4 separate regions of the Homo sapiens genome follow, and all the other regions are reported to be linked to region 2. Evidence: microRNA targets listed by miRTarBase, many of them from high-throughput screens and not tested one by one. Region 2 holds a microRNA gene; each other region holds the end of a gene's coding sequence.

Region 1 (3,143 bases), not on the chromosome of region 2:
CTGCTACACCCAGCTGGTTTTTGTATTTTTAGTAGAGATGGGGTCTCACCATGTTGGCCATGCTGGTCTTGAACTCCTGACCTCAGGTGGTCCACCCGCCTTGGCCTGCCAAAGTGCTGGGATTACAGGCGTGAGCCACCACTCCTGGCCACTACTCTTCATTTAGTGTCTTCCTTAGCAGCGCTTGTGGCTGTCACTCCAGAAGGCATCCCCAGGCAGGCAGTGCTGAGGGCCACTTGGCCATGACAGGAGATCATGACGGGAGAACAGACGGGCAGGGGGGCGGTGGGGAAAGGCCACTGATGCTTTCTGTCTCCCAGGGCGGGGGCTGTCGGTTCCTGCGCTACAACTGTTCCATCCGAGCCCCAAGGAAGGGCTGGACCCTCATGCACCCTGGACGACTCACGCATTACCATGAGGGGCTCCCCACCACCAGGGGCACCCGCTACATCGCAGTCTCCTTCGTCGATCCCTAATTGGCCAGGCCTGACCCTCTTGGACCTTTCTTCTTTGCCGACAACCACTGCCCAGCAGCCTCTGGGACCTCGGGGTCCCAGGGAACCCAGTCCAGCCTCCTGGCTGTTGACTTCCCATTGCTCTTGGAGCCACCAATCAAAGAGATTCAAAGAGATTCCTGCAGGCCAGAGGCGGAACACACCTTTATGGCTGGGGCTCTCCGTGGTGTTCTGGACCCAGCCCCTGGAGACACCATTCACTTTTACTGCTTTGTAGTGACTCGTGCTCTCCAACCTGTCTTCCTGAAAAACCAAGGCCCCCTTCCCCCACCTCTTCCATGGGGTGAGACTTGAGCAGAACAGGGGCTTCCCCAAGTTGCCCAGAAAGACTGTCTGGGTGAGAAGCCATGGCCAGAGCTTCTCCCAGGCACAGGTGTTGCACCAGGGACTTCTGCTTCAAGTTTTGGGGTAAAGACACCTGGATCAGACTCCAAGGGCTGCCCTGAGTCTGGGACTTCTGCCTCCATGGCTGGTCATGAGAGCAAACCGTAGTCCCCTGGAGACAGCGACTCCAGAGAACCTCTTGGGAGACAGAAGAGGCATCTGTGCACAGCTCGATCTTCTACTTGCCTGTGGGGAGGGGAGTGACAGGTCCACACACCACACTGGGTCACCCTGTCCTGGATGCCTCTGAAGAGAGGGACAGACCGTCAGAAACTGGAGAGTTTCTATTAAAGGTCATTTAAACCACTGAAGGGAAGATGCTCAGGGCGAGTGGGTGTGTGTGTGTCTTGGTGTGAGTGTCTGCAGGGAGAGAGGTTTTAAGAGCCCTCTTTTTTTTTTTTTTTCTTTTTTTGAGACAGAGTCTCACTCTGTCTTCCAGGCTGGAGTGCAATGACGCTATCCCCGCTTTCTGCAACCCCCGCCTCCTGGGTTCAAGTAATTCTCCTGCCTCAGCCTTCCGAGCAGCTGGGGCTACAGGCACCCATCACCACGCCTGGCTAATTTTTGTTTTTTTATTAAAGAAAGGGTTTCACCAGGTTGGTCTGGCTGGTCTTGAACTCCTGACCTCAGATGATCCACCCACCTCGGCCTCCCAAAGTGCTGGGATTACAGGCATGAGCCACCGTGCCCGGCCAAGAGCCCTCTTTTTAGAGCCTTTAAGAAAGGTCATGCTAGCCTCTCGACCCCTGAGTAGCTGGGATTATAGGTATCCATGCCTGACACATTTTTGTATTTTTTGTAGAAACGGGGTTTCATTTCACCGTGTTGGCCAGGCTGGTCTCGAACTCCTGACCTCAGGTGATCCATCCGCCTCGGCCTCCCAAAGTACTGGATTACAGGCGTGAGCCACCATCCCAGGCCTGAAAGTCTTTTAAAAAAGATTTTTGAGGCCAGGCACAGTGGCTCACACCTGTAATCCCAGCACTTAGGCTGAGGCAGGCGGATTACCTGAGGTCAGGAGTTTGAGACCAGCCTGGGCAACGTGGCGAAACCCTGTCTCTACTAATAATATGAAAAAATCAGCCGGTTGTGTTGGCATGCGCCTGTAATCCCAGCTACTCGGGAGGCTGAGGCAGGAGAATCGCTTGAACCCAGGTGGTGGAGGTTGCAATGAGCCAAGATTGGGCCACTGCACTCCAGTCTGGGTGACAGAGCAAGACTCCATCTCAATTAAAAAAAAAAAAAGATTTTTTAGTCTTTTCATTTTCAAAATTGACTCATTGTAAATTCAAACAGCACAAATCTTAATCTTTCTGTCATCCTTTCCCCCCAGCTGCTCAGTTCCTCTCTCTGAAAGCCACCATGTCTAATCTGTTTTTTGAACGTTCTTGAGCTGGTTTGTGCCGACACAAGCCTGTGTGTGTGTTTGTGTATGTTAGGGTTATTTTTGTTTTTGTTTTTGAGATGGAGTCTCACTCTGTCGCCCAGGCTGGAGTGCAATGGCATGATCTCGGCTCACTGCAACCTCTGCCTCCCGGGTTCAAGCAATTCTCGTGCCTCAGCTTCCCGAGTAGCTGGGATTACAGGCACCCGCCACCACGCCCAGCTAGTTTTTGTATTTTTAGTAGATATGAGGTTTCACCATGTTGGCCACGGTGGTCTCCAACTCCTGACCTCAGATGATCCACCTGCCTCGGCCTCCCAAAGTGCTGGCATTACAGGTGTGAGCCACTGTGCCCGGCATAGGGTTGTTTTTAACTGTTAACTTTTTTCTGATTACAAACTCATCTTCACCATGAAAAAGTCAAACAAAATAGGTAACATGGGGGGCCGGATGCTGTGGCTCACATCTGTAATCCCAGTACTTTGGGAGGCTGAGGCGGGTGGATCACTTGTGGTCAAGAGTTTGAGACCAGCCTGGCCAACATGGCAAAACCCCCATCTCTACAAAAAAATACAAAAATTAGCCAGGTGTGGTGGCAGGTGCCTGTAATCCCAGCTACTTGGGAGGCTGAGCTGGGAGAATCACTTGAACCTGGGAGGTGGAGGTTGCAGTGAGCCAAGATTGCACCACTACACTCCAGCGTGGGTGACAGAGCAATAACCTGTCAACAACAACAACAACAAAAAGTAATATGGACCGGGTGCAGTGGCTCATGCCTGTAATCCCAGCGCTTTGGGAGGCTGAGGTGGTAGGATCACTTGAGGCCAGGAATTCTCAACCAGCATGGCCAACATGGCAAA
Region 2 (3,143 bases):
AGAACAAAGACCAATTATCTATGCAGCTGTCCACAGTGGATAAAACAAAAAGCATACATTTGGTCCAGAGTTAAGTCACCTGGGTTGGGCCCATCCAAGGAAGTTTGATGTTTCTACTCTCATGAAAAGTACCAATGGCACTGCACAGTGATTATCTTAGATATTAAGGATAAACACAAATTTCTCCTTAAATTTCCATTTATTGGAAATGATTGGAGGGAGGGAACTTCTCCCTCACCTCCACACTGCCTCTTTTCCAACTCTTCTTCCAACACAAAATAGTTTAAACAGCAAGCACTTAGAGAGCTTTTAGCCTTGCTTGTTGATTACAAGGCCCAAGTTAGTGTATGGTTTGCCCATCGGAGGAAAGCTAAAACATGGGCCTTCATGGGTATTAAAATTGAAGAAACCTTTTCCAGCATTTTTTCTATTTTCTTTAAAGTAACAACCTATGGACTTCCCCATCTGACATTTTCGAGTGATCCCACTGTGTGAATGAAGGACTACTTCAGGGTTTGAGGGCAAAGCTGAAATCTTAGCAACTTACCAGTGAGCAAAGGTAGAACCCAGAGCCCATCTCTCCTTTTCCAGGCTGCTGAGTAAAGTCTGGCTCAATCAACCTATCAATGAAGCAGTGCTTACAACATTCTCCAAGACCACCCAAAACCCAAACTGGAAATGAATCATGACTAATCTGACTCATTTTGGCTCACACAGTGCCCTTCCAATTTGTATTTACCTTTACCACCCAGGACCTGACCTTGGACATGTGTACCAGGATGTAAGGCAATAAACCTATTCACAATTCCAAAAGGGCCTGGTCCTCTATGAAGATTTCCTGAAGGCTACTTACTTTCTCTACTCATTAAAATTTTTGCTTAACTTCAAATTTCTGAAATATACCATATGTGAAAAATTTAAATGTTAATCTGTGCCTACTGTACTACTTGAACAGAGAAAATTAACTGATAAACTGTAAATACAAAATGTCAAAATTAATTCTTCTGAGTTTTAATATCATCTAAATAAAAAGAAAATAATGCAGCAAGTCTACTCCTCAGGGAAGGCAATAGATTGTATAGTTATCTCCTGAACAGGGTAAAATCACTACCCCACAACTATACAATCTACTACCTCACTCTGATAGAGCAATGTTTTCTTCTGGAATGGAAAGTACAATCTCTTTCGAAAGAAAATTTCAACATAAAATTATCAGCATAAATCAAAATAAAAAAATACATTTATTCTGACACAGAGAAATAAGACAAGAAGCAAAAGGTTTCCCCACCCCCATCCAGTGTACTTGCTACAGACTTTATCTCTAAATTAATTTATTTCCAGGCCATAAACAAATGCTGCACTACATCTCTTTAAGACAAGTTAATCTTAAATATTGTACAATTAGTTAACTGACTTTCTATCAGACCGCCTGGATGCAGACTTTTCTATCACGTTAGGAAAGACAGTAGATTGTATAGTTATCTCCCAGTGGTGGGTGTGACCCTAAAACTATACAACCTACTACCTCATCCCACAGTGAAGAGAACATCCAGGGTGAATGGTGAAAAGGAATCACAGTTGAGCACCACAGGAAGGCTTTTTTTCCTCCTCGGTAATCCTGGTTTCCTGTGTGAGTGATAAGAAAAATAGTATTAGACCATTTTCATTCACTTACGTTGAAAATGAAGTTTAACTGAACATTTTGGCTACATGCATAATCTATGCTGTGGTTTCATTTCCTGTATTTCATTAATAGTATTTTAAATGCTTGGTTATCTGAATCCGCTCCTAAAACCATGTATTTACAAGATTCAGAAATCACCCTCTTACCACCACCTTTTACTATTATTAACTGCTGGTTTTCTTACAGTTCCTACAAATGAAAATGCATGAAATAACTTATCCTTCAAGAAACAACAAAAAATCATTACAGAAAAACATGACAGCCTCTAATTAAAAATCCAATGACTTCAAAACCCAAAAGTCCTGTACATCATGCATAATCCAAATGCACTAACATACAACGAGATAATATAAAAAACACACACAAATAGAAACTAATTTTTAAAGGAACCTACTCATTTATCCCATGCGAGCAAACACTAAGTGGTCTTATTAGGACTAAATCAAAGATAATCACCTGGATCTGATTCAGGGTCAGGATCCTTTCCTTTAGATAGAAAGGTAATATGTGGATTGAAGGCAGAGTCCAAAATCTTTAATAAACCCAAGTAATCTAAACTGTATTATTACCCTTTAATTTACAGACTTCATATTTAGGAGGTAGCTACTACGAAGATTATCTTTTAAGATAGGGACTAAATTTATTTTGTAGTGATTTAGTAACCAAAAGCACTAATTTTTAAAATTACAAAACGTAATAAAAAACATACGGCTCAATATAATAGAATTTAAAGTCTAGAAATAAACCCATACATGGGTCAACTGATTTTCAACCATGACAAGACAATTCAACTGGGAATCGTTTTTTCAACAAATAATGCTGACGGCTGTATAGCCACATGCAAAAAAAATGGATCTGCATTCTTTGTAAACTGGTGTGCAAAACACACATTAAAGTAACTTAAAACAACCTAATTTAATGGTAAAATATTTTAATAGATATTTCACCAAAGATATGACTCATAAGCACAAATGGCCAACAGGCACATGAAAAGATACATTATTCATTAGGATGGCTAATAAGATTAATAAAAGTGTTGACAAGGATGCGGAGAAAATTGGAACCCTTAGATTGCTGGTGGGAATGTGAAATGGTGCAGCTGCTTTGGAGAACAAAACTTGTAGACAAGTCAAACAGTTGTTAAGTGGAATCAGAAACACGTATTTCGTCTTTGTCTCCATTTGAAGATCCTGGCTGGCATACAGCTCCTAAAACCCTCAGAATTTCCTAAGTGATGAATGTCTGTTTAATGCTACTGAGTCGATTGGTGGCTCCTGTAGTTTCAGGAGGGGGATAGTCACCAGAAAGACCAAGGTGTGATTAGAGGGGTGGAACTTTCAGCCTCACCCCCTCAACCTCCAGGTAAAGCAGAGAGGACAGAGAGTAAGCCAATCATCAAAGGCCAATAATGTAATCAATCATGCCTAAGTATGAAACCTCCATAAAAACCCCTTAAGTG
Region 3 (3,135 bases), not on the chromosome of region 2:
GCAGGTTTGCAGTGACCTTCATGAGAGATGTGACTGATACAGGGGAGTGGGTGGCAGACTCAGTGGAAGGTGAGCCCATGAAAGCATGAGCATACGGACAACTCTCCAAGAAGCTCACTTCTCTGCGTCTCTTCTAACAGGGACTGTGACTTCATAACTCCAGAATACTTAACCACATATACTTAAATAGACTTTTCTTAACTTTGTGTGTTCCAAGGATCTACGGATTTTGGAAATGTTAGTTTTGTGGTTCCTGGAATTCATCCATATTTTCACATTGGATCTAATGCCTTGAATCATACTGAACAGTACACTGAAGCTGCTGGTAAGTGTTGTTGGATGTGACTGTTTTGGCACACACACTCTTCTTCTGGTAGTAGCTGCCTTTCTGTTTAACCTACTATTTCACTACATAACATCACCTCAGTAAATACTGCACTGTGGTGGGCAGTTGGAGAGCCAGTTGAGATACGGGTAGCTAACCTGTGAAATTAAATACAGCTTAAATAAGTAAGGAGGTATTTTATTTTCTCTACCTTTTAGGGTCACAGGAAGCTCAGTTCTACACTCTGCGGACGGCCAAAGCTCTGGCAATGACGGCACTGGATGTTATTTTTAAACCAGAGTTACTGGAAGGAATCAGAGAGGACTTTAAACTGAAACTTCAAGAAGAACAGTTTGTAAATGCAGTAGAATAAAAGACTTAGGGGCCACTTATAAATCAAGAAGACGTGATGATTTTTTTCTTTTAATCTCTTTTAATGAAGGCATGCTTGTTTTTTAATCTTAAAGGAGTAAAATTCTTTTTACCTGATAAGTGAGGACAGGGTGTGGAGAAAACATATTAATTACCTCATATCTAAAGTGAAAATTTTTGCAAATCCGTACTTGATAGGATTATGATATTACAGGAGCTGGTATGTGATGCCATTCTTTCTTTTTTTTTACCCCGCAACCACTCACCTTCACAGTAGTGATACCATTTCTTAACCTGGAGGATACATGGCATCATTTTTATAAAATATGTTAGTAAACCTTTTTGTAAGCCTTAAATGTTATGTGTATTTTTAAAAGCTTAAGAGATTTCAAACCTTATATTCAGAATTGACACCCATGAGAGTGTTTTGTGGTATAGGGTGGTAAACTTGTTCTCTAATCGTATATTAATTCCTCTACCAGATTGTATATTTGAAGCCAGTGTCTTTCCTTTTTTTGTTTTAAGATAGAGCCTCGCTCTGTTGCCCAGGCTGAAGTGTAGTGGCACAATCTCGGCTCACTGCAACCTCTGCCTCCCAGGTTCAAGTGATTCTCCTGCCTCAGCCTACCAAGTAGCTGGGATTACAGGTGTGTGGCACCATGCCCAGCTAATTTTTGTATTTTTAGTAGAGACGGCATTTCACCATGTTGGCCAGGCTGGTCTCGAACTCCTGACCTCAGGTGATGCACCTGCCTCGGCCTCCTAAAGTGCTGGGATTACAGGCATGAGCCACCGCACCCGGCCTGCCAGTGTCTTTTTAATACACATGTGTGTTGGTATTTTTAAATTGTTACAGTATCTAGCATATTGCTTACTCTGAATATTCAGTACTTTTTGAATAAGCAAATATTGCTTCCTTGCTTGGAATCATCAGAGTTTAAAGTAGCTTCGTGGATGGACCATGATCCTAAGATGAGTTTTAATTTTGTGTTTACAGTCATCTCTTGTACAACGTGGAGAAGAAAAGATATACTTACTACTTTGCTTCAGGTACACATAAGAAAACCTCTTTTTTAAAAAAATTTTTATTTTTTTACATAATAGAGACAGGGGCTCGCTGTAGCTTCCAGGCTGGCCTCAAACTCCTGGGCTCAAGCAATCCTCCTGTCTTGGCCTCCCAAAGTGTTGGGATTTCAGGTATGAGACACCACACCTGCCCATTTTTGTTTGGTTTTTTAATGGGCAGGTTCTTGCTCTCCCAGGCTGGAGTGCAGTGGTGTAATCACAGCTCACTGCAGTCTCGAACTCCTGGACTCAAGCAGTCCTCCCACCTCAGCCTCCTAAAGCACTGGGATTACAGGCTTGAGGCACTGCACCTGGCCCTGACCATTTTTTAAAAAGGTTAGGCTTAGTGCAAAGTTTAAAATTATATGATTCTTAAAATACTGAATTAGTTTCTAAACTAAACTAGAGGTATAGGTGGACCTGCTTGAGGTATCTTTGTTTTTATGGAACATTTTTATTACATGCCTTTATAATTTTTCATTGTTCACACCCTGTACTGAAACCTTTTTCTCAAATACCAACTCTTGGCTATGTTAAATTTGTAGACTTTAAAAGATGTTATCTAAATTAATGGTTTAAATATACAAATTGAAAATATTTTCTTTTTAGTGGCAATTTTAAAAGCAGGCCTTAATATGGGACCTGCTTTTAAAGTAAAATATGTGGTACTATGAATTACTAAATTGCTATATACCATGTAATAGTGAGTATAGCTAATATTTAGTATGCCTTTTAAAAATTTTGGACTGCTTTTCGGTTTTAACAAATTCTCCACATGTGAACTACTCAAGAAATTTTCCCTTTTTAATTGCCTCTATAGCACTCATAAGAGCTAGGGCATTAGGATAAACTAGAATATTTTATGTTTATGAATACTTGTATAAACTTAAAAGTGTTTTGATTTCCCACAATTTCCCAAAGGAATGTTTATTTATTAAGAGTTGTGTTGATAATTTAACTGTTACAATTTCAGCAGTTGAATTCAGTGAACACTGGTTGAGGAGTGCCTATTTCTAAGCACTGGGTGTAAGAAGAAAAGACACTTGCAAAGGAAGAGCTAAGATTAACATAATTTCTTTGGTTTTTCTATTGCTTGTTATTATTATGTAAAAACTGGGTGGCAGTTCACAAGGAAGATTGTTGTAACAGAAGAGTGACAACCAATAGTTTTTTGATCATTAAATCAAATTTTGTAAACAGTGGCAGGAGCGTGGACTTAAAACAAGGCTTGCTTATTTGGTTTTGTCAAAGTTTTACGAAAATATATGATATATATTTATACTAAAACTATATAATCCTTAGATTTAGGAAAGCAATCAGTTAATGTCTTTAGCACACTAAAGCAGTATTAAACACAGGTACAAGTTGGAAAT
Region 4 (3,143 bases), not on the chromosome of region 2:
ACATGGGGTCTGTCAAAACTACTCAACTCTGCCACTGTAGTAAAGCAGTCTTAGACAATCTGTTAACAAATGGGTGTGGCTGTGCTCCAATAAAGCTTAATTTACACTAATAGGCAGTGGTATGGATTTGGCTTGCAGATCCTAGTTTACCAACCAACCCCTGATCTAAACTGCAGCTGTGAATCAAACATGAGAAAATGTCTGTGTCACATTCTTACAATCCTTTGTAACAAGAAGGTGAACCACCATCTGATCACATGAAAATAACACAGCAATTCAAGAAGGACACAGTGACTACAGTGAACACTGAGAAGTGGTCCTCAAAGTGAAAGAGAAAAATAAATGCCCTAATCAAACACAAAAGCAGAAGCAGAGCAATCAGGAATCATTTAAACCAAGGCCCTACAAACTTGAGGGCATCAGTACGTCAAAGAATAGCACATAACTAATGTTCACAATGAGGATTCTGAGTCAGAGGAAATGTTTAATTATCTTCTATATATTTCTATCAAAAGAGGCAAAGAAATGTATCAATTTAAACAAGACTGGCATAACTATTTCTGTCAATGAGTATGCATTTTCCACAGTCACTACCTGTCAAAGCCTGGGTCTGACTCATGTTTCTTTCCCACTCATTCCCATCTCCAGTGAATCAGCACATCCCTTTGATCCTTCCTCAGTCAAATGCATCCTGGCACTTTACAACTACTTTGGAAAACAGTTTACCATATCTCCTAGAGCTTGAACATACACATATCCAGTGATCCATCAATTTCACTTCTAAGTATAACCATAGCACTATTTGTAATAGCCCAAACTGGAAACTGCCAAGTGCTTATGAACAGAAGGAGGAGTAATTGGATTGTAGTAAGTTTCCATAATGGCATTCCATACACAGCAACAAGAGTGAACAATCTACAAGTACACACAACAATATGGATGGATCTCACAAATGTACTGTTGAGAAAAAGAAGCCAGGAACATGATTTCATTTATAAAATGTCTAAAAGTAAGCAAAAAGAAATCTACACTTTTAACAGTCAGGACAGTTACTTTTAGACCAGGGCTTATGACTGACGCCAAAGAGAAGTTAGTTTTGTTTTGTTTTTGTTTTGTTTTTTTGAGATGGGGTTTTGCTTTGTTGTCCAGACTGGATTTGAACTGGGCTCAAGTAGTCCTGCAACCTCAGTCTCCTGTGCCAGGCTTTATATTTTATTTTTTTGGATGGAGTCTCACTCTGTCACCCAAGCTGGAGTGCAGTGGCGCGATCTGGGCTCACTGCCACTTCTGCCTCCTGGGTTCAAGCAATTCTCCTGCCTCCGCATCCCAAGTAGCTAAGACTACAGGTGCGTGCCACCATGCCCAGCTAATTTTTCTGTTTTTAGTAGAGACGGGGTTTCACCATGTTGGCCAGGCTGGTCTTGAACTCCTGACCTCAAGTGATCCACCCGCCTCGGCCTCCCAAAGTGCTGGGATTACAGAGGTGTGAGCCACCGTGCCTGGCCTATTTTTTTTTTTTTTTGATTTTCATGCAGGTTACCTGGATGTGTTCAATTTGTTCATTGAAAAAATTCATTGAACTATGTATCTATGATATGGTACCTTTCTGTATATATTTCATGGTTTACTTTAAAAATTATGTCCTAGCTTTCAATGTTATTATACTAATCCTGAACTATTATACTGCTCATTTCATACCACTTACTGGTCTCTCTACCTCTAGTTCCTATCCTTTCCAATATGGTTCAAACACAGTTGTGAAATTAATCTACCAGAAACAGTTATTTCATCTTGACCCTTCCCTTGTACCCATCCTATACACAGGAGGACTGACGTTCACGTTCCTTTTGACTTACAGAATAAAGTCCACAATCTCTAATTTAGCTTCACATTCAATATAATACTCTATATATCCCACTCTACCTTCCAAACCTCTCTCCCTCATTATTCCCCCACAGCCTGCCCTTCCTGCCAGGTTACTACTGTACCATGTGTACTACTGTTTCTATGCTTTGTCTACATTTTTACTACCTATTATTTGTAGCCTGAATTTAGCCCTTCATCAAATAATATCCTGTGATAGCTCATATTGTCATTTAACGTTATGCTGTAGATGTCTTCTCTTTTTAAATTCAGGTATAATTTATATACGATAAAATGCATGGACCAGCCTGTAGTCCCAGCTACTCAAGAGGCTGAGGTGGGAGGACTGCTTGAGCCCAGGAGTTTGAGGCCAGCCCAGGCAAGATAGTGAGAACTCTTTGTTTTTTTGGAGATAGCTGCTTGCTTTGTCATGCATACTGGACTGTAATAGTGCAATCACAGTTCACTGCAGCCTCAACCTTCCGGGCTCAAGCCATCCCCCTGCCTCAGTATCCTCCCCCACCTCCCCAGCAGCTGGTACCTGGGACTACAGGTGTGTGCCACCATGCCTGGCTAATTTTTGTATTTTTTGTAGAGGTGGAGGTCTCACTGTGTTGCCCAGGCTTGTCTCAAACTCCTAGCCTTAGGTGATCCTCCAGCCTCAGCCTCCCCAAAGTGCTGGAATAACAGGTGTGGGCCACTGTGTCTGGCCGAGACCCCATCTCTTAAAAAAAAAAAAAAGCATACACTGTAAATGGTCAGTTTTATGAATTTTTACAATTGTATATACCCACATAACTACTATCACCAAGATATAGAACTTTTCCATTACTCCAGGAAGTTCTCCTGAACGCCTTACCAGGCAATCTCCCCTTTCCTGATGCAGAAAACTACTTTCTGAATTTTTACAACCACAGATTAGTTTTGCCTGTCCTTGGTGTTACATACATACCTTTCTGATAATTACACATTTCTATGTTCAGGAGAATGTGAAGGAGACCTCAGAGTGGAACTAAGGGGTGGTGTAGCAAGACCATGTCGACGCATCTCTTGGATTGCTCGTTCTCTGTTAGTAAAGATCAAACAAGAGAGATATATTCAAGCACCAGGGAAAATCAAAAAGTGGCAAACAAATATAAGAGTTATTAGCTAATTTGTAATAAATTACTTAGTATTACTATTAAATTTAAATCCTATGTCTTTGTACAATTTTTAAGTAGTGGATAAAATATTTCAATTAAAAAATTAAATATATATATATAGTGAGGAGCATCTTGCTT

The links. The annotated mature microRNA hsa-let-7a-5p reads UGAGGUAGUAGGUUGUAUAGUU and lies in region 2 at 1,508-1,529, opposite strand. An mRNA with a match to its seed (bases 2 to 7 or 8) in the 3' UTR can be bound and repressed. Matches are read on the target gene's strand: a 7mer-m8 pairs with bases 2 to 8, a 7mer-A1 pairs with bases 2 to 7 and ends in A, and an 8mer does both.
Region 1: the mRNA of PLOD1 is a reported target of hsa-let-7a-5p. The part of its 3' UTR that is shown has no 7-base or 8-base seed match.
Region 3: miRTarBase lists PM20D2 as a target of hsa-let-7a-5p. Seed matches in the 3' UTR shown: 7mer-A1 at 850-856.
Region 4: miRTarBase lists CEP135 as a target of hsa-let-7a-5p. The part of its 3' UTR that is shown has no 7-base or 8-base seed match.

The regions. Positions count from the first base shown.
Region 1 is chr1:11,974,333-11,977,475 of GRCh38, forward strand. It overlaps PLOD1 (procollagen-lysine,2-oxoglutarate 5-dioxygenase 1), which reads left to right. Exons shown (of 19, transcript NM_000302.4): 19 at 321-1,205. The coding sequence ends at 476. Among named protein-coding and RNA genes, the nearest start is that of MFN2, 4.5 kb to the right of the region's middle.
Region 2 is chr9:94,174,348-94,177,490 of GRCh38, reverse strand. It overlaps MIRLET7A1 (microRNA let-7a-1), which reads right to left and starts at 1,534; the gene lies at 1,455-1,534. MIRLET7A1HG (miRlet-7a-1/let-7f-1/let-7d cluster host gene) reads right to left here. Exons shown (of 5, transcript NR_170278.1): 2 at 1,526-1,626. MIRLET7F1 (microRNA let-7f-1) reads right to left here and starts at 1,144; the gene lies at 1,058-1,144. It overlaps LINC02603 (long intergenic non-protein coding RNA 2603), which reads left to right. Exons shown (of 3, transcript NR_160773.1): 3 at 1-922.
Region 3 is chr6:89,161,566-89,164,700 of GRCh38, forward strand. It overlaps PM20D2 (peptidase M20 domain containing 2), which reads left to right. Exons shown (of 7, transcript NM_001010853.3): 6 at 218-325; 7 at 544-3,135. The coding sequence ends at 698. Among named protein-coding and RNA genes, the nearest start is that of PM20D2, 17 kb to the left of the region's middle.
Region 4 is chr4:56,024,287-56,027,429 of GRCh38, reverse strand. It overlaps CEP135 (centrosomal protein 135), which reads right to left. Exons shown (of 26, transcript NM_025009.5): 25 at 2,816-2,929. The coding sequence ends at 2,827. Among named protein-coding and RNA genes, the nearest start is that of CRACD, 23 kb to the left of the region's middle.